Linked DNA regions of Homo sapiens. The protein of the gene in region 1 purifies or fractionates together with the protein of each later gene. This does not show direct contact. Each region holds a gene or a part of one and is shown in the gene's direction. Other genes may lie near its edges.

What was found. Proteins that work in one complex are often made in the same cells at the same time.
Region 2: the proteins of NCK2 (region 1) and WIPF2 purify together in Homo sapiens (affinity purification with mass spectrometry; 5 studies listed by BioGRID and IntAct, with this or other methods). This does not show direct contact.
Region 3: the proteins of NCK2 (region 1) and BRK1 purify together in Homo sapiens (affinity purification with mass spectrometry; 4 studies listed by BioGRID and IntAct, with this or other methods). This does not show direct contact.

Annotation. Positions count from the first base shown.
Region 1 is NC_000002.12:105,740,781-105,747,935, forward strand, and holds the start of NCK2 (cytoplasmic protein NCK2), read left to right. Parts: upstream 1-4,131; 5' UTR 4,132-4,358; intron 4,359-4,825; exon of another isoform or gene 4,826-5,559; intron 5,560-7,155. UniProt on the Homo sapiens protein: Adapter protein which associates with tyrosine-phosphorylated growth factor receptors or their cellular substrates. Maintains low levels of EIF2S1 phosphorylation by promoting its dephosphorylation by PP1.
Region 2 is NC_000017.11:40,264,290-40,271,315, forward strand, and holds part of WIPF2 (WAS/WASL-interacting protein family member 2), read left to right. Parts: intron 1-200; coding exon 201-857; intron 858-7,026. UniProt on the Homo sapiens protein: Plays an active role in the formation of cell surface protrusions downstream of activated PDGFB receptors. Plays an important role in actin-microspike formation through cooperation with WASL.
Region 3 is NC_000003.12:10,111,850-10,118,686, forward strand, and holds the start of BRK1 (protein BRICK1), read left to right. Parts: upstream 1-3,825; 5' UTR 3,826-3,852; coding exon 3,853-3,970; intron 3,971-6,837. UniProt on the Homo sapiens protein: Involved in regulation of actin and microtubule organization. Part of a WAVE complex that activates the Arp2/3 complex. As component of the WAVE1 complex, required for BDNF-NTRK2 endocytic trafficking and signaling from early endosomes.

The DNA of each region.
Region 1 (7,155 bases):
TTTTCTTTGGTACTGTTCATATTTAGTTTTATATTATAGTTATTTGTATGCTGGTTTCATCCTTCCTTTTGGGTCTTTCCTCTCCATTTCTCCTAAACTATTTTCCCATCCTTTCACTCCACTCCAGTTTGCGTTATAACCTCTCTGAATAATGCAATCTTATATCTGCTCTTTGCACATCCAGGTGTTCTTTGGTGTCTGCACCAAATGAATGAATCCTGAAGTGGATCTTATAATGCCTTACAAATAGAACTACACCAGATATGCTTAATTGAATTGAGGGTTACAAGAGAAGGTCATGAGAAAGGAGACATGAGTGTTTACCATGTGCTGAACACACAGTTGAGACATGTTTATATTATCTCCTTTAATTCTCACAACGCTTTGCAAGAGCACTATTAATATCTGAGGCTCAGAGAGGTGAAATGACCCCAAGGCACAGGCTCCAAGGTAGGCTTTGAGCCTCTGACGTATGACTTGGACAACACCCTCAACCTTGCTTTGTGTTTTCCGTGAGTCTAAGGAGGGGTTAGAGAAGGCCTTGAATGGAGCTCTGAAAGAGAAGGACGGGGACAGGGAATTCCTAGCTGCCTTCACACCACAGAAGGCTGAAACTAGTGTGACTCAATGTGGCACTGTGGGCAGAGCTGAGTGACTGAAGCAAACAGCTTATACTGGACAGAGGTAAAAAGGAGATTGTATGGCAGGGCTAAGTTGGAGAGGCCTTTGGAAGAGAGATCATAAGATGTAATGCTGATGTGATTTTAGGCAAAAGTTTACTGCACCTCCTTCCACTCCATGTTTTTTATGCTTTCAATACTTTGTGATTGAAGACAGTAAAACAGATGTGGACACATTAATGGAGTAGAATGCAGAAAAACCTATATATTTTTAGATAAAACATAAGCTTCAAAGAAATGTCTCCCCCATGTTAAGCCTTGCAGTGGGTTGGATGTTGGCCCCAAAAGATATGTTCACCTGGAAGCCGAGAACGCGACCTTATTTGGAAAAAAGGTCTTTGCAGATGTTGTAAGATAAGGATGTCGAGATGACATCATGCTGGATTAGAGTGAGCCCTAAATTCAATGATACTTGTCTTTACAAAAAGAGAGAAGGGAAAGGACACAGGGAACCAGGTTGTGTGAAGACAGAGAGGCAGAGGTGGGAGTGACACTGCCACAAGCCAAGGAATGTCTGCAGCCACCAGAAGCTGGAAGAGGCAGGGAAGGATTGTTCTCTACAGACTTTGGAGAGAGGCTGGTGTCTTGATATCAGACTTCTGAACTCCAGAACTTTGAGAAAATAACCTCTGTTTTGTCACCTAGTTTGGGGTCATTTGTTAAGGCAGCCCCAGGAAACGAACACAGGCCTCTAAGGGCTAAATACCCCAGCCTCTCTGGGGGAAAATGCTCAGTCTTCAGTCATCAGATAACTTTTGAGGAGACTGTGGTGGGCAATGGGGAGCCATGAGAAGTTCTTGAGCACAACCAGGGACAAATGGAAACAATTTACAGGAAGGTTAGGATGACATTGATGTCCAGTGTGAGTCTGAGGGATTTAAGAAGGAAGTAATGGGAGACCAGTTGGAAGGCAGTAGTTGTGGGGAATTGAACAAGAGTTTTGGAGTCAGGTACATGCTCTGACCCCAGTTCTTTGATCCACTGTTCAAGTGATTTCATCTGTAAAATGGGTATAATACTATTGTGTGTGGATTAGAGATGATATATGTCAAGAATTCAATCAAGGTACATTATAACTATTGCTAGAATGATGTATAAGTTAGGATGCCAGTGATGGAAATGGAAAGAAAGGTGCAGTGGAAAAGATGTTTAAGAATCACCAGGACTCAGAACCATGGGGGTAGTCTGCAAGGGGTCTTGGTGTCATTCAGCGCTCTCCCAGCTTTTCTTGGGGAGAACTCGGAGAGAGGGAAGGAAAAGCCAAGATAACAATGAGATTTCTCCCAGGAGCTGAGGTGCCTGGTAGACTCTTGGCCAGGCCTGAAACCATGGGAGGAGGAGCTGGTCTGGGGAGCAGATGAGTTTCATTTTGAACATGGTGACCTAGAAGAGATGCTGCGCCATGTTTAGGGGGTGCAGATTAGCTGGGGAGCTCTGCAGATTAGCAGGGGAGCTCTCTAAGGCTACAGGTCTGGGGGTTAATCAATGAAGGTTTAGACAGGGAGTGTACAAAAAACAATCAACTCTCTCTTTAAAAAAAAAAGGTGCGTATCAGAATAAAAACAAAGGGCCACCATCTGCCTTGGGGATATCACTTTTACAGGGTGGGAAGACAACAACCTCTCTAGAGGAGGCAGATGGGCAGGTCAGAAAGGTAAGAGAATCAGAACTGGCTGTGTTTGATGAATGAAAAGATGATGGTGTTTCAGGAAATAGCAGAAATGCCACATATTTCAGAAAACTCCACAGGATAAAGATTGATAAAGGGCCACTGGATTTAGATAGAGAATGACATCGGTGACTTCTAAAGAATCAGAGAAAGAAGAGGCATGCAAGAACCACGATTCAGTGAAAGTTTACAAAGCAAACAAGCTACAAACTGGGTCAATATTGCTATACTTATTTTGAGTAAATTAATCTAAAATTGGGCAGACTGATGACTAGAATTCTTCTTTTCTTATTGTAAAGCTAGATATTAGTAACACAAAACTTGCACAAAAGGATGAACTGAAGTAGCTTCTTTCACAAGGTCAAAACAAGGAAAAATGAGGCTGTTCTGATTCCCTGAGCTTGTACCTGATTCCTGCTCAGTGTACTGTGCTTCCTTCCACTTACTGAGCTATTGAGGGCTACCTACTGCCAGGGTACTTCACATAGGAGGTAAGTAAATATTATCTCCCCATATGACAGATTTTAGAAAGGCTGAGGACCACCTGTGCAACGTTACACAGTTCAGGAAGTCAACAGTCAAACACTCACCTGTCTGACTTCAAAGCTACGCTGACTCTAGTTACCTATCCTTGGGTACTTCCCTTCTGGAAGGAAGCAGGAGATGAGTGAATCAAATAATACAGCCTTGTAACCTTGGGTAAATTATTATTGCCTTAATAGTAAGCAGAGACCAGGAGCCTAAGAAAGAATCTCATTAACATGGATGCAGGCTATCCTGCCAGGAAATCAGAATCATTTGAATATTAGGATTTCCTTTGGGAAACCATATGGGGAGGAGAAAAGACATCCGGATGCATGTGTCTGTGAAAGGGAAACTTGTGTCTTTCCCCTTGCTCTTGGGTTTTCATCTTCCAAGTTTGTTTATAGGCTAGCCACAACTCGAGGCTGGGTGAGCTGAACGGTCCCATCATTAGCGACACTCCTTCTAGGGGCACATTCGGGCAGCTCCTCTTCGGGTTCTGCCCCCACGGGTGTGCAACCAGGATTCCACAGGCTGGGGCTGGCCTGGATGCCTGGGAGGCAACAGAGGTCGAGTTTCTTCTTCTTTTAGGAAGTGCCTCGGACAGGGATGATGGACTAAAAATGTGTCTGGTTGGGAAAGTAAATAGATGCAAAGCAAATAAATAAAAATGCCCACAAGCAATTACAGGGAGGAAGTGACATTTTTATTTAAGTCACTTTTCTGATGGACAACAGGCCTGCTTAGCTGAGTGCCGTGGGAATGCTTCCGGGAGGGGGGCGGCTGCCCAGCAACTAGAGCTTCGTGATAAGAACAACGAACAAACAAAAAAGAGGACGCAAAGCCCACCCGGCAGTCATCCCAGGCTGGAAGTTGCCGTCTGTGTTTTCACTCTCCTCCCCACCCACCTACCCTGCCCCCCACCGCCCGCACGCAATTTCGGGCGTGGGGACCCTTTCCTGCCCCCGGCGCCCGGCCCGTGCTGCGCCTCCAGAGCGGAGCGTCCCGCAGCCCCGCGCTATCCCGGCGCCCGTACCGGGACCCGGGCGCGGAGCCTGGCGACGACGGGGGGCGCCCCAGGTGGGTCTCGGGTCCCCGCCCCGCGCGCCCGGGCCTGGGCCGGCCCCTGGGCGGCGTCACGGCGCGGCCGGGGAGGAGCGCGGGAGGAGGAGGAAGAGCGCGGAGGAGGCGGGCGCTGCGCGCCGGGGGAGGGTCGCCGCCGCCGCCGCCGCCGCCGCCGCCGCTGCCGCGGGGATCGTCAGGCCGGAGCCGCGCGGCCGAGCGGGCGGCGGGCGGAGGGGAGGGCTTGGCGGCCGGGAGGCTCGCGGCGCCCGGGCCGGCAGGGTCCGCCCGGGCCGGCAGCGTCCGCCCGGCGGCGGGAGGAGGGAGCGGCGCAGACAAAGAGCGGCGCCTGGGCGGGCGCAGCGCGGCCACCGCCCCGGGACCCGCGCCGCTGCCCTCCGGCTCCGCGGGCGGCCCACGGCGAGGTAAGCGCGGCTAGGCGGGCGTGGGGCGGGGGCCACAAACTTGGGGCCGTTGGGCGGAGTTGGGAGCGCGGCGGGGCTCGCGGGCCGGGGTGCGCCCGGGAAGGGGCCAGGAGAGCGGGTCCCCTCCGCGCCCCTCCGGTGCTCTCGGCCCTGCCGCGGCCTGGGCGCCCCCGACCGCGGACTGCCGGGCACCTCCCGGCTCTGCACCTTCCTGCCCGCCTTCCCATCCCTAACCCCCACCATCGGGGGCCGGCCCAGGGGCGGGGACGCCAGCCAAGGGCGCGGGCGAGGATCAGGGCAGGGGGCCCGGCTGCGGGGCCCGGGGACTGGAGACCCCCGGGTGCGCAGGCTGCGCCTGGCCTGCAGGCGGGCGGCCGGCACGGAGCTCGGGGCTAGCGTGGGACCGTGCGGTGGCCAGGGTCGCCAGGGCGCGTGTGCCGGGGAAGAATAGCCGCGGATCGCAGGGCCCCGGCGCAGGGACGGGGGAGGCCGCGATCGGCCGGGAGAACTTAACCGTGTTTATTACAACTATTTATGTTCGCGCACAAAGCTGCTGTCACATTGCATAAAGGAGGTCCTCGCTTCGGCGAAGGGAGCTTTTGTGCCCGGCTTCAGGCTCTGCGCCCTGCCCCAGATTTACAGGACTCTAACAGCCACCTGAATGAACCAAAGTTTCTCACAATCGCTCGGCTCTCTCGGTTTTTTTCAGGGCGATTTAATCACCGAGTGCTTTTGGAAAAATTTGATATGTGAGTTTTAAGGCATGGAGGGTAACTGCCTTATGAGCACAGTTAGCTTGGCATTGTGTGGAGGGGTTTAATTTGCAAAACGCTTTAATTTGTAGACAATGGGGATCTCTGTGAAGGTCTGCGGTGGATGCTAGGGGTCATTGGCTGGTGGACCCCAGGCACCTGACTTAAACTAGTATTGTAACAGCTTCAGGGACAAAGCCGAGCGTGCGTGGAGTCGGCCTTGGCCACTTCACACAATTCAGGTTGGCAGATTCCTCTTTATTTGGCTTTGTTTATTTTGCCAACAGGTTTAAGGCTGCTTCTGCCAAGTTTGCATCTGCATAATGGGATGAGCAGGCCCCAGTGTGGGCAGGAGGGGGCCTAAAATATCGCAAGGGCCAGCTCCGTCCCTCGACCCAGAAAGAAACAACCCTGAGAGGCCGGTGGGCGTGGCTTGCTGGGACCTACAGGTAGGGGAGTCCCTTCCTGGCCCAGGCGCAGTCCCCGCTTCTCGGAAGGGATTTTGTGTAGGAATGAAAGTGATTCAGGGTGTTTTTCATGCCTCTGTTTTAGATGTAGTTATCAAGTCTCAAAAGTGACTGAAAATGAAATTAACCTGGGCCGCTTTAACTTACCAAAACGGAACTGTGCGTGTGAACACTCCCTCAATTCACTTTGCAAGCTTCATAGATAAGCAGGTGAATTAGTAACAGGATTCAAGCCTTGCGAGTTTTACGTAAAGAGAATGGCAGTCATCGGACACGTGGAGAAGAAATTGACTTCACCTGGAGATTGGGCTAGACATGGAGGTTTTTTGACGTTTGGAACAGGGGTTTCCTGAGAAGCAAGTGTTAACCTGCTTGTGAAGAAGTGAACACGAGGGAAAATCCTACCTCAGTATATTCTGCCCTGGAGGTTGGTTAGATGTAGTTTTGATTGGAGAAGGTGGCGGAATCTTAGTGGTCTTCTGGCGGCTACTTGAGGCTGAAATGGAGAACTTTAGGCATAGGAAGCTGTGGAGGTGCCTGGCCCACTTCCTGTCCCGGAGGCCTCGCCTGGATTCTGAGCTTCTTTCCTGCTTCATAAACATTCAGGGGGGTTGGTCATGAAACACTGGATGAAATTGGGTCACAAATTGCCATCAGGAAGAGTTGGCTGCTGCATAACCCCCTCTGTCCACTTGTGGAGAAACTGACCCTGTTAACCGTCGGGCTTGCTGAAGGTGCCTTGCAGGTGGCTGTGCTCAGTTTTCATGCTTTGTGTTTTGCTTAGGACACGCTGCATACTTAAATCTTCTTCATCCTTGCTCTGTTTGACCCTGCCATATTCCCAGGCTTTGTCATTTACATTTTCGGTTATTTAGCTTTTCCAACAAACAGCAGATCTTATGTACACAGTACTATATTTGAGAAATGCACTACCATCCATATTAAATACACCGGAAATCTTCCTTGCATGTGCACAGACTGGATAACCTTTTAAAATACCCTAAGACTCCCGGAATGGCGCAGAATGCACTGGAGTCCTTTACTTGATCAGTTGCACTAGCTTAGTTTGCCCTGGATAGACCAGGCTGCGAGGCTCTATGGGACACCCATTTTTCTAACTGCTCAAACTGGCTTGCCGTGTGCACTGGGGGAGACAGGGCTTGCGGAAATCATTCTCTGACATTAAAAATGAGGCTTAAAGACTGAAGAGCTCAGAATTGCTTGCTGGAACTACAGGGGAGGATGATGAGTGATGTTTGGAAAAACAAGTAAGCTAACTTTTTTCACAAATGAACTGGAAACTCCCTACAGCTCACTTCAGATGCTTAGGAAATTAGTTTTCCCATCCAGAGGGTTTGCGAGTGGCACTTCCAAATGGTTTCTGTTTCCTAAAATGAGTGATGGAAATACTTCACGGCACGTTTTCAAAGGGCCTAAGCTAAAATGTGATTTCGTGTATCTTGTTCCATGCCTGAGTTAAGGCAACTCAGAAGAAGGTCGTGACGGCCTTTTAACGGGCTATCAAAAGTGTGCAGCTAAAGCAAAAACAGTTTTGCATTTCTTTAGGCCATTTAGTAG
Region 2 (7,026 bases), on another chromosome or scaffold:
CACTCCAGCCTAGGCAACAACAGCGAAACTTCGTCTCAAAAAAAAAAAAAAAAAAAAAAAAAAAGAAAAACAAAAAACCCAGAATTATTCAATTCCTTTCCCTGCTGCCATGCAGGTTGCACTAAGGAGCCGAGTGAAGTAGGGATACTGACCAATATCTGTCCAGCTCTGTTGACCCTGTGTTGTCTATGTATTTGTAGAGAACCTAGCTGGTAAGCCAGCCCTGCAAATCCCCAGTTCTCGAGCTGCTGCCCCAAGGCCTCCAGTATCTGCCGCCAGCGGGCGTCCTCAGGATGATACAGACAGCAGCCGGGCCTCACTCCCAGAACTGCCCCGGATGCAGAGACCCTCTTTACCGGACCTCTCTCGGCCTAATACCACCAGCAGTACGGGCATGAAGCACAGCTCCTCTGCCCCTCCCCCACCACCCCCAGGGCGGCGTGCCAACGCACCCCCCACACCTCTGCCTATGCACAGCAGCAAAGCCCCCGCCTACAACAGAGAGAAACCCTTGCCACCGACGCCTGGACAAAGGCTTCACCCTGGTCGAGAGGGACCTCCTGCTCCACCCCCAGTCAAACCACCTCCTTCCCCTGTGAATATCAGAACAGGACCAAGTGGCCAGTCTCTGGCTCCTCCTCCTCCGCCTTACCGCCAGCCTCCTGGGGTCCCCAATGGACCCTCTAGCCCCACTAATGAGTCAGCCCCTGAGCTGCCACAGAGACACAATTCTTTGCATAGGAAGACACCAGGGCCTGTCAGAGGCCTAGCACCTCCTCCACCCACCTCGGCCTCCCCATCTTTACTGAGTAATAGGCCACCTCCCCCAGCCCGAGACCCTCCCAGTCGGGGAGCAGGTAAGTGCTTGGAAGCACCTTTTTCCCTATCATGCTGTGAGTTGATTTTATCTTTCCCCAGAGCACTCCTTGAAGACAGTAATTCGTTTATTCACTCAGTGGGTTTATTGAGTACCTTTTTATGTGTCAGGTCTGTTGGTAGGGAAATAGCAATAAATAGAAAAGACAAAAAAATTTGACAGTCAAACTAGTAAAATATATAAATACATAGTATGCAGTATGCTTTAGAGAATTACAAAGCAGAGGAGAGGAATAAGATATACTGGGGCGGAGGTCGGGATGATGATATCTTTAATTGGAGGAGTGGGGAGAGAGTCAGGACAGTCCTTACTGATACGGTGAAAATTTGACAAAGACCTTAAGAAAGTGACGAGTAAGCTTAGTAGTTATCTAGGAGAACAGCTGTTGCAGGCAGTGGGAACAACAAATGCAGAGGCCATAAGGCAGAAGTATTCTTGAAACATTTTGGGGACAGCAAGGGGGCCATTGTGGCAAGACTACAAAGAGTGAGGGGAGGGAAGAGTGGTAGGACTTGGAGGTTGGAAAGCTGGAGCTGCAGGGGAGAGCGCACTGCAGGATTTTGCAAAGACCTTGGATTTAACTGTGTGAGATGGGAAGCCACTGGAGGGTTTTAAACAGAGAAGTAGTATGATTTGATTCACCTTTTAAAAAGATCATTAACTCCTATGTTGAGAACAGACCGCAGGAGGACAAAGGTGACAAAAGGAGACCAGTTACTGGGCTGTTGCAGTAAACGGCCAGATGGTTAGGACTACTGTGAATTTGTGGGAAGATAGGTGTTCAGTTTGAGACAAGTTTGAGATGCCTGTTAGGTAATCAAGAAGAGACAATGAATTGGTAATTGGCTATCAGACTCCAAAGTTGAGGGGAGAGGTTTCGGCTAGAGAGATACATTTGAATGGTGTTGAAAACCACATGCTGGATGAAGTCACCTAAGGAGTGAATATAGATAAGAAGAGGCCTAGGAGGCTGAGGCAGGAGAATCGCTTGAACTCAGGAGGCAGAGGTTGCAGTGAGCCGAGATCACGCCACTGCACTCCAGCCTGGGCGACAGAGTGACAGTCCATCTCAAAAAAAAAAAAAAAAAAAATGAGGGCTGAGCCCTCGCCCTCCTACATTAGAGGCAAAAGAGATGAAGAATACCCAGCAGAGGAAACAGAAAAGCTTCTAGTGAGGATGGAAGGAGAAAAACCAAGAATGTGATGGAAAAACTCCAAGGTAGAGTAAGTGGTCAGCTGTGCCCAGTGCTGCAGATGGGTCAGGTAAGTTAAAGACCAAGAACTGGCATTGGTCTTAGTATCATGGGACCCTTTTGAGTAGTTTCAGTGGAGTGGTGGAGGGTGAAAGTGAAAGCTTAATTGGAGTGGGTTCAAGAATGCAGGAATAGGAGGAGAGAAATTGGAGATAGCAATATAGAAATCTCTTAAAGAGTTCGCTGTAAAGTCCAGGAGAGAGGGGTGAAGATAAGTGAAGTGATTGTTGGACGAAGATGTGGGGTTGAGAGTTGTTTTTTTCCCATCCCAAGATGGGAGACCTATTTGTATGCTGATGGAATGAGTAGCATGAAACTTAGGAGAGAGGGAAAAAATTGAATCAGAAGAGAGGGAACAGATTGCCTGAATAATGACCTGGAGGAGGCCAGAGAAAAGAGAATGTGATCGATAGATAAAAAGGGTTGGCCTTAGATAGGAACATAGTTCTTCCATAGTAACAAGAGGGGAGGCAGAGCATATAGGCTTAGAAGCAAGTGGGTAGGTGGGTGTAGTGGTAGAAGCATGTGGAAAGTTTATTCTAATTTGCTTCTGTTTTCTCAGTGAAATGGAAAGCAAGAGCATCAGCTGTGATTGAGGCGAGGGAAGGAGAAGGAGAGTTGAGGAGAGAGAAGAGGCATGAAATGGTCATCTGGAGCGTGGGAGTGTGGGTGGACTAGGGAAGTGTGCTCAGATAGGCAACCACGCGAAGGGCCCACTTGAGATTATGGGCCATACATTTCATGTGAGATTAATTAGTCTCATGTGTTCAGTTGTGATTTGCAGGTACAGAAAAAGAGTAGAGCTGTGTTTAACCAGCGTTAGCATGTTTTAGGCATGTGCGACTCTAAGGGAGAGTGGGGCAGGAAGGGAAGGGTGTATGTGAGGGAGTGATTGCAATAATGGAGCCTAAGCTGGGTGAGGAGGGAATTTAGGAACCCTGGAAAAAGAAGAGGTTGTGTAATCTCGTTATAATTAGCATAACTGAAATTTTAGAGTGAGGGAGACCGTGACAGCTCTCTGGGGCCTTATTGGACATGGGAATTTTGGCTCCCATATCGTTGTATCATTAGACTTTGAGACATACCCTCCACAAACAGCTTCTTGGCCTTTATTTATTTATTTGTTTGTTTGTGTTTTGAGACAGAGCCTTGCTCTTTCGCCCAGGCTGGAGTGCAGTGGTGCAATCTCTGCTCATTGCAACCTCTTCCTCCCAGGTTCAAGTGATTGTTGTGTCTCAGCCTCCTGACTAGCTGGAATTACAGGCATGTGCCACCATATCTGGCTAATTTTTGTATTTTTAGTAGAAACGGGTTTTCGCCGTGTTGGCCAGGCTGGTCTCAAACTCCTGACCTCAAGTGAGCCACTGCGCCCAGCCCTTAGCTTTTATTTTAAAGTCAGTTTCTACAGGTATAGAACATTGATTAAGGAGTTATGTCATGGAGTCTGGGCATGATGGCTCACGCCTTAATCCCAGCACTTTGGAAGGTTGAGGCCAGCAGATCATTTAAGCCCAGGAGTTCGAGACCAGCCTGGGCAACATGGCAAAACCCTGTCTCTACAAAAAATAATTTTAAAAAATTAGCCTGGCATGGCGGTGCATGCCTGTAGTCCCAGCTACTTGAGTGGCTGAGGTGGGAAGACCACTTGAGCCTGGGAGGTGGAGGCTGCAGTGAGCTGTATTAGTGCCACTGCACTTCAGCCTGGGCAACACAGCAAGACGTTGTCCCAAAAAAAGGGTAAAGGTTATATCATTAAGTAGCAAGGCATTAAAAGTCCATTAACCTGTGTGCAGCTTCTTTGTTCAGTACATACAGATTTGTACTCTAGCAGCTGGCCATCTAACATAGGGCAGCCAAACAGTGGCCTACTGCATTCCTGATCCCATATCTCCCTAGCTTTAGCCATAATGAGGTAGTGCTAAGGTGGCCCTTGATTCTATAAAGTTCAGGTTTGACTTTTTTTTTAACTTAGGGATTTTACAAAAGACTCTTTGTCTGAGCAAAGCTCATATCTTTCTGACCTCATCCAGGAATAGAAGAAGAGAAAAATGCAATTTCCGTGGGTTGAGCTGAGCACTTTTAAATGTCTGCAGGCTTTCTTGCTTCCCACTTTTCCATTCTTTCTCTGTGGTAGCTAGGACTACAGGAGTGTTGCCACCATGTCTGGCTCATTAAAATTTTTTTTTATTTTTATTTTTTAAGATGAGGTCTGTGTTGCCCAGGCTGGACTCAAACTCTTGGGCTCAAGCCATCCTCCCACCTTGGCCTCCCGAAGCCCTGGGATTACAGATGTGAGCAATTGTACCTGGCTAGAGCAGCAATTCTTAAGAGTGATAAACCAGAAAAAAATTGAGATATTTTAGTCAGAGATCATTTGAGTATTGCCTCGATTTGTTGTGTGACATTGGACAGATCACTGATTCTCTTTTCTCACCGATTCTCTTTTCTCACCTGTAAAATGTACATTTGAAAAGTACAGTGGGGGTCAGGGACACAGGCTCACACTTGTAATCCTAGTGCTTTGGGAGGCTGAGGCAGGAGGATCGCTTGAGACGGAGTTCAAGACCAGCCTGGGCAACATGGTGAAACCCCATTACTACAAAAAATAAAAAAACTAGGCCGGGTGCAGTGGCTCACGCCTGTAATCCTAGCAATTTGGGAGGCTGAGACAGGCAGATCACCTGAGGTCAGGAGTTCAAGACCAGCCTGGCCAACATGGTGAAACCCCATCTCTCTACTAAAATACAAAAATTAGCCAGGCATGATGGCGGGTGCCTGTAATCCCAGCTACTCGAGAGGCTGAGACGGGAGAATCGCTTGAACCCGGGAGATTGTGGTTGCAGTGAGCTAAGATTGCACCACTGCACTCCAGCATGGGTGACTGAGCGAGACTCTGTCTCAAAAAATAAATAAATAAATAAATAAAAATAAATTTAAGAAACCTAGCCAGGCGTGGTAGCGTGTGCCTGTGGTCCCAGCTACTTGGGAGGCTAGGATGGGAGGATCACTTGAGCCCAGGAGGCAGAGGCTGCAGAGAGCTGAGATCACGCCACTGCACTCCAGCCTAGGCAGCAGAGCAAGACCCTGCCTCAAAACCCGCCCCCCCAAAACCCAAAAACTAGCATTATTGGTTCATAGAGTTTGTTTCAAGAATTTTTTCTTTGCAGAGTAAAACACTGTCTTTTTTTTTTTTTTTTTTTTTTGAGATGGAGTCTTGCTCTGTCGCCCAGGCTGGAGTGCAGTGGCGCGATCTCGGCTCACTGCAAGCTCCACCTCCCAGGTTCACGCCATTCTCCTGCCTCAGCCTCCCGAGTAGCTGGGACTGCAGGCACCCGCTACCATACCCGACTAATTTTTTTGTATCTTTAGTAGAGATGGGGTTTCACCATGTTAGCCAGGATGGTCTCTATCTCCTGACCTTGTGATCCGCCTGCCTTGGCCTCCCAAAGTGCTGGGATTATAGGCATGAGCCACTGCACCCGCCAACACTGTCCATTTTTAAGGGAATTTGAGAAAAATAGAAACCATCATACTTTTCTCAAAATTAGGGTTAATCTTGGATTACAAAAGCCTGTCTCCCATCCCAGGACTTCTTTTGGAAATTGTTTTTTAGGGACTGGAGTTCTGGCTCTGTCACTTGAAACAGTCTTAAAACTGGATCTGGGGCCGGGTGCGGTGGCTCATGCCTGTAATCCCAGCACTTTGGGAGGCTGAGGCGGGCAGATCATGAGGTCAGGAGATTGAGACCATCCTGGCTAACACGGTGAAACCCTGTCTCTCTACTAAAAATACAAAAATGAGCCGGGCGTGGTGGCGGGTGCCTGTAGTCCCAGCTACTGGGGAGGCTGAGGCAGGAGAGTGGCATGAACCCGGGAGGCGGAGCTTGCAGTAAGCCGAGATCGTGCCACTGTACTCAAGCCTGGGGGACAGAGCGAGACTCCGTCTCAAAAAAAAAAAAAAAAAAGAAAAATAACTGGATCTGACAAAGAGCCCAGAAGCTTATTGGAGACAGCAGAACCTGGCTGGGATGAGGGAGGGAGCTGGAGAAGCCAAACAGATCACTCTTACCCTGCTCTATTTTGCCATTCCAGGTCGTCTCATCGCTGTCACCTGCCTGGTGTCTAGCTGGTGTCGGTGTCCTTGTGAACCTGGCTAACCCTGTTTACCTTGCTGCCCTGGCCTAGGAGTAGATACAAATTCTCAGGGCCTTGAGGAATCTGGGTTTTAGGGAATATTTTTGAGGGCTTAAAGAAGCTTCTATTCTTAAAGAGCTTTAGTTTGAGTAGATTTGGAATCAAAACAAGGCTCAGAGATCTGCTGGGAGTTACAAGATTTCTCTTTAATTATTGCATCTAGTGTCCCCTGTTTCTACTGAACAAAGCTTGGAAACAGTGAGGAAGAGTTGACATTCTGAGTGTGTCTTACGGGAAGCAAAAACATTTATTGGGCTTATTGTGCCAGATTGTGTGTGTGTGTGTGTGTATGTTATTCTATTACTGTGTTACATGCTTAACTATAGTCACTACAGCAATTCTGATAGTAATCAGGAGGAATAATAAGATACTCTTTTCTTTGAGACAGTCTTGCTGTGTCACCAGGCTGGAGTGCAGTGGCGCGATGTTGGCTTATTGCAGCCTCCATCTCCCAGGTTCAAGCTCCTCCCACCTCAGGCTCCAGAATATCTGGGATTGCAGGCGTGTGCCACCACGCTTGGCTAATTTTTGTACTTTTTTAAAATTTGAGGTGAGGTTTCATCATGTTGCCCAGGCTGATCTCGAACTCCTGGCATCAAGCAATCTGCCTGCCTCAGCCTCCCAGAGTGTTGGGATTACAGATGTGAGCCACTATGCCTAGCCAAGATACCGTTTTACTACTAAAAACAGTTTTGTCTGTTAA
Region 3 (6,837 bases), on another chromosome or scaffold:
TATCATGCTAGCAAACCCATAACTAGAGGACTGTCTGACAGCAAGCTCTGTAAAGCGTTTAGGAAAAGGCTCCTGAGGTCCAAAGGAACCATCTTCACTCAAGAACAGCATCATATCCTTGAGTCATCTAGAATTACAAGGGAGATTCTGGAACAGGTGTATAGAAAGTCAACCAAAAGGACAAGACTTGAGTCTGACCTGTCCATGGAAGATGTTCATTAAAAAAAAATTGTTGGATACAGTTTTCTGCCGTCTGCATAATAAGAAAATATAAACTGATCCTGAGTGCATGCTTTATGAAGAGCTAGACATTGTGCTTAGTGTTTTATTTATACTTTCTCACATAATCCTCCAACAATCCTAATTCATCAGTGTTGTTATCCTTGAATTATACATAAAGAAACCAAAGCTCAGAGAGGTGAAATGACTCCTGGATGGTAGATTTAAGATTTCAAACCATGGTGCAATACCTTTATTTTTTATTTTATTTTTTTGAGACAGAGTTTTACCGTTGTCACCCAGGCTGTAGTGCAATGGTGCGATCTCGGCTCACTGCACCCTCCGCCTCCCAGGTTCAAGCAATTCTCCTGCCTCAGCCTCCCTAGTAGCTGGGATTACAGGCGCCTGCCACTACCCTCAGCTAATTTTTTTTTTTTTTTTGTATTTTTAGTAGAGACAGGGTTTCACCAAGTTGGCCAGGCTGGTCTCAAACTCCTGACCTCAGATGATCCACCTGCCTCGGCCTCCCAAAGTGCTGGGATTACAGGGATTACAGCCACCATGCCCGGCTGATGCAATACCTTTAAAGGAAAAGCAGGTCTATCTGACTTTGTGATATCTAAGCAAAATGCCACTTCAACAGCATCACTTAGGATACAGGGCCTTGAGCAGCAGATAGCCTACTGCATGCTTAGGCTTCCCTAATTCTCTATATCTATTATTTATTTTAGAAATCATTTATATGTAGGCTGGGCGTGGTGGCTCATGCCTGTAATCCCAGCACTTTGGGAGGCCGACGAAGGTGGATCACCTGAGGTCGGGAGTTCAAGACTAGCCTGACCAACATGGAGAAACCCCATCTCTAATAAAAATACAAAAAAAAAATTAGCCAGGCGTGCTGGCACATGCCTGTAATCCCAGCTACTCGTGAGGCTGAGGCAGGAGAATCGCCTGAACCCGGGAGGCGGAGGTTGCGGTGAGCCAAGATGGCGCCATTGCACTCCAGCCTGGGCAACAAGAGCGAAACTCCGTCTGGAAAAAAAAAATCATTTACATGTATTCATAGGAGAGCTCAGACAGACTTTAACCTGTTTTCAGAGCGGTATAGTGAAGAGATAATGAAGTCTGGAATCAGCTGGTTAGGGTCTACCTTTTAATCGGCTTTGTTACCTTGAACATCAGATTTCTGATTTTTTATTTTCAAATGAGAAACTTCTTCCTGGCTTCCTTCCACAGGGTTTGTGAGGGTCCAGTAAGGTAATAGCTATAAAAGCATCTTTATAGGTTATAAAATTCTCTACTGGGGTAAATAACTGTTAGTAATGGTTTCTTCCCAGTTAATGCTAATACTGGTAGTAATCTGACTCTTCAGCCACTTTTTTTTTTTTTTTTTTTGAGACAGGGTCTCACTCTGTCACCCAGGCTTGAGTGCAAGAGTGCAATCACTGCTCACTACAGCCTTGACCTCCCTCGGCTCAGGTGATCCTCCCACTTCAGCCTCCCAAGTAGCTGGGATTACAGGCACATGCCACCATGCCTAATTTTTCTATTTTTTGCAGAGACAGGGTTTCACTGTGTTGGCCAGGCTGGTCTCGAACTCCTGGCCCCAAGCAATACGCCCGCCTTAGGCTCCCAAAGTGCTGGGATTAACAGATGTGAGCCACACACCCAGCCACTGAGCCACATTTTTTCTTTTTAATAAAAAGCATTTACTGGCCGGGCACAGTGGCTCACACCTGTAATCCCAACACTTTGGGAGGCTGAGGCAGGTAGATCATCTGAGGTCAGGAGTTTGAGACCAGCCTGACCAACATGGTGAAACCCCATCTCTGGTAAAAAAAAAAAAAAATTAGCTGTGTGTGGTGGTGTGCGCCTGTAGTCCCAGCTACCTGAGAAGCTGAGGCAGAATTGCTTGAACCCGGGAGGCAGAGGTTGCAGTGAGCCGAGATCGAGCCACTGCACTCCAGCCAGAGCAACAGAACAAGACTGTCTCAAAAAAAAGAGCATTTACTGCATGCCAGATTGTAAGTATTCCCTGAAATGAGAATAAAGTTGTTCATATTCCACTACCTTAGCAAAGCAGATAGTGACTTTTTTTGTAGATCCTTCTTGTCCTCAAACATACATTTTTCCATAGTTGCAATTAAAGAAAAATGTGGGCCAGGCAGGGTGGCTCATGTCTGTAATCCCAGCACTTTGGGAGGCCGAGGTGGGCAGATCACTTGAGGTCAGGAGTTGGAGACCAGCCTGACCAACATGCTGAAACCCCGTCTCTACTAAAAAATACAAAAAATAGCCAGGTGTGGTAGCGGGCACCTGTAATCCCAGCTACTTGGGAGGCTGAGGCAGGAGAATCACTTGAACCCGGGAGGCAGAGGTCACAGTGAGCCAAGATCGTGCCATTGCACTCCAGTCTGGGCATTAACAGAGAAACTCTGTCTTAAAAAAAAAAAGTAAGAAAAGGAAGGAAGGAAGGGAGGGAGGGAGGGTATTTTGTTTTTCCCCTCAATTTATTGTATGTGTTTTCATGTTGCTTGTGTTCATAATTAGCATTTAAATGACTGCATAATAGGCCGGGCATGGTGGCTCATGCGTATAATCCCAGCACTTTGGGAGGCCGAGGTGGGTAGATCACCTGTCAGTTCGAGACCAGCCTGGCCAACATGGTGAAACCCCGTGTCTACAAAAAATACACAAATTAGCCAGGCGTGGTGACGTGAGCCTGTAGTCCCAACTACACCAGAGGCTGAGGCTGGAGGATAGCTTGAGCCCAGGAGTTCAAGCCCAGGAGTTCGAGGCTGCAGTGAGCCATGATCATGCCATTGCATTCCAGCCTGGGCGACAGTAAGACCTTGTCTCAGGCTGGGCGAGGTGGCTCACACCTGTAATCCCAGCACTTTGGGAGGCCGAGGCGGGCGGATTGCCTGAAGTCAGGAGTTCGAGACCAGTCTGGCCAACATGGTGAAACACCATCTCAACTAAAAATACAAAAAAATTAGCCGGGCGTGGTGGTGTGCGCCTGTAATTCCAGCTACTCGGGAGGTTGAGGCAGGAGAATAGCTTGAACCTGGGAGGCGGAGGTTGCAGTGAGCCGAGATCACACCACTGCACTCCAGCCTGGGCGACAGAGCAAGACTCCGTCTCAAAAAAACAAAAAACAAGAAAAAACCTTGTCTCAAAAAACAACACAAAAACACAAATTTCCTTCTGAAAGGGACTGTTCCAGTTTGCAGTGTGCCCAGCTATTTATGACCATATTATTTTTTAGACTCCGTCTAAAAAAAAAAAAGACTTGTATTTAATGTGATTTAATCGACTGTGCCCATCTCACTGCGGACACTGAGTGCGCAACCTGAGCCTGGAGCAGTTGAGGGAGACGGCAAGACCCCACGCGCCGTGTAACGACCATAACGCGCGTGCACTACAACCTCGCCGCCGGCGTCCAGGCTTCTGTGTTCTATAGCGTGGGAGTAGAGAGCAAACGCCGGCGAGGACGTGACGTTGCACAGGCCTATCATAGTGCCCGAGAATTCGTGGGTGCTCAAGAGGATGGGTGTGGCCTGGCAGCGCAGGCGCACTAGAGGCCTGTAGGGTCGGGGCGCCTGCGCAGTCGCTCTTCCTCAGGCGGCGGCCATGGCGGGACAGGAGGATCCGGTGCAGCGGGAGATTCACCAGGACTGGGCTAACCGGGAGTACATTGAGATAATCACCAGCAGCATCAAGAAAATCGCAGACTTTCTCAACTCGTTCGGTCAGCGGGCCAGCAAGGGGAGGCGGGGAGGAGGGAGGCCGCTGAGGTGGTTGGGCTGGGGCGCCGGGGAGATGCTTTGAGAGGACTCCCGCAGCCTTCGGCTGTTGCGGGTTTTCACTTCCTCCTTCAGGTCCCACCTTCTCCCTCCCGCCCTGACCCTCAGGCTCCCGTAGACAGTCTCTGTAGGGTTATCCTGCCCTACGCTGAGCTCATGGCTTCCTGCCATCCCTCTGGATCCATTCTACAAGTCCTTCTCCTAGACGCGTCAGGCAGCCCCATCCTCGCTCCGTGGTTCTTCTCCTAAGTGGTCTCCCTGCCTCCTTTGTACTCTGCATCCATTCCGGTCCCCACTTTGCACTCAAAGTGAGCATCCGGGACCGTGTCACTCCTCTGTTTCAAGACTGTTGACCGTTCCCCATCTTCAGGATCTGGTCGATACCCTCTAGCGTCGTGCCTTTTAGTTGGACCCGTTGTCAACCACTCCCGTCTTGTCCATTCCTTCCTGTTTCCTGTGTCTGCTGCGGTGAGAGTGGTGGGAGATGAGGTCAGAGGGATGCCAGGATCTTGTAGGACCTTGGAAGTCCTCTCTGTATTGCTAGTATATATAGCTTATGGTAGGTGTTCTGTCTGCTTCTAGCCCATTCCTCAGAGCTAACACAGGTCGGGTGCCTTCAGCAGAAAGATATCTTTACCAGAATCTTTCCTAGGCATGGCCTGCTTGTGACAGCCTTAAATTCTTCCTTATGAACAGCAAGCAAAGCAATCGAGATTCCTACCCCTTCTTCTCCAAGTGTTTAACAGAACTTGGCACTGGTTAGACTTTCTTGTGTAATTACAGGATATAGGGACTAGTGTACTTTGGAAAGATTTTTAAATGAATGATTCTCTAACTAAAGGACTGATGGCCTTAGGAGTACAAAGGTGACAGAGCAAGAGATTGTCAGAAAGCATCAGCGAGAGATGCTAGAGCTCCATATGAGGCCCTCTCTTAAGGCATAGTGGGAGACACAGAATAAGAACCACTTCCTACATTCAAAGAAGTTCTAATCTTGAAGATGAAATAATGACAACTTCAGGACAAAGAAGAGCATCATTTTTGTATTAAAGTATTTTCATACAGGGTGTTTAGGACTATAATCGTGGCTGAGTTCAATGGCTTATGTCTGTAATCCCAGCACTTTGGGAGGCCAAGGTGGGAGGATTGCTTGAGCCCAGGAGTTCAAGACCAGCCTGAGCAACATGACCAGATCCTATCTCTACAAAACAACGACAACAAAAAAATTAGTTGGGCATGGTCATGCACACCTGTTGTCCCAGCTACTCGGGAGGCTGAGACAGGAGGATCACTTGAGCCCTGAAGGCAGTGAGCCATGTTCATGCCACTGCACTCCAGCCTAGGCGACTGACTGAAAATTGAAAAGCCTAAGCTTAGGATTTGCAAAGGAGAAATGTCCCTTTTCTTGCTTTATAGGCAAGGAGATATCAGCTTGGATATTTTTATGTCTAATTTGTAAGAGTCACATTTTATGATCAGATAGAGAGTAAAGACTTTATTTGGGCTTTTCAACAAATTCTTTTTTTTTTTTTTTTTTTTGAGACAGGGTCTCACTCTAGCCCAGGCTGGAGTGCAGTGGCGTGATCTCAGCTCACTGCAACCTCTTCCTCCTGGATTCAAATGATTCTCATGCCCCCGCCTCCTGAGTAGCTAGGATTACAGGTGTGCACCACCACACCTGGCTGATTTTTGTGCTTTTAAAAATAGAGGCAGGTTTTGGCCATCTTGCCCAGGCTGGTCTCAAACTCCTGAGCTCAAGTGATCCACCCGCTTCGGCCTCCCAAAGTGCTGGGATTACAGGCCTGAGCCACTGTGCCCTGCCCCCAAAAATTCTAAACTAAGGAATTAGACATACAGAAGTCCAGTCTTTTGGAGCCAAAAGAAATGACTTCCCTTAGCTTAGATCATTATCCTCCCTTAAAGTGATGATAATGGCCAAATGTTTGGAGTAATTACTAGGTGGTTTTTAAAGATTTTAGAAAGTGAATTTAGAGAAAATAACAATTAAATACAACTAAGTAAGAAGAGAATTATAATGCAGGATTAACAGTCAAAGGAATTTGACTTAGCAGTTAGGTGTACCTGAGGCAAGTTCTTAAAGATTGGCATGGTGGCTCATGCCTGTAATCCCAGCACTTGGGGAGGCTGAGGCGAGCAGATCACCTGAGGTCGAGTTTGAGATCAGCCTGGCTAACATGGTGAAACCCTGTCTCTACTAAAAATACAAAATTAGCTGGGCATGGTGTTGCACACCTGTAATCCCAGCTACTCAGGAGGCTGAGGCAGGAGAATTGCTTGAACCGGGGAGGCAGAGGTTGCAGTGAGCAGGGATCGTGCCACTGCACTGCAGCTTGGGCAAAAGACGAGACTCTGTCTCCAAAAAAAAAAAAAAAAAAGATTGACACTATCACAATGCAAGAGTTTAGAAAAAGACCCCACCGGCTGCGAAACTGGATAAATTAAATTATAAGGATAGACTTGAGTATGTTGTCTTGGTATTGAATGAGTCAGGATGACTATGTATGGGATGTTTTTTTCCCATCCTAAGCCATTAGTAGGCTTGTACAATTGTCCCTTGAACAATACATGTTTGAAGTGCATGGATCCATTTACAGGTAGATTTTTTTTTTTGAGACAGATTTTCATTCTGTCACCTAGGCTGAAGTGCAGTGGCATGATCTCGGCTCACTGCAACCTCCATCTCCCAGGTTCAAGTGATTTTCTTGGCTTAGCTTCCTGAGTAGCTGGGACTACAGGTGTGTGCCACCATGCCCGGCTAATATTTGTATTTTTAGTAGAGACAGGATTCGCC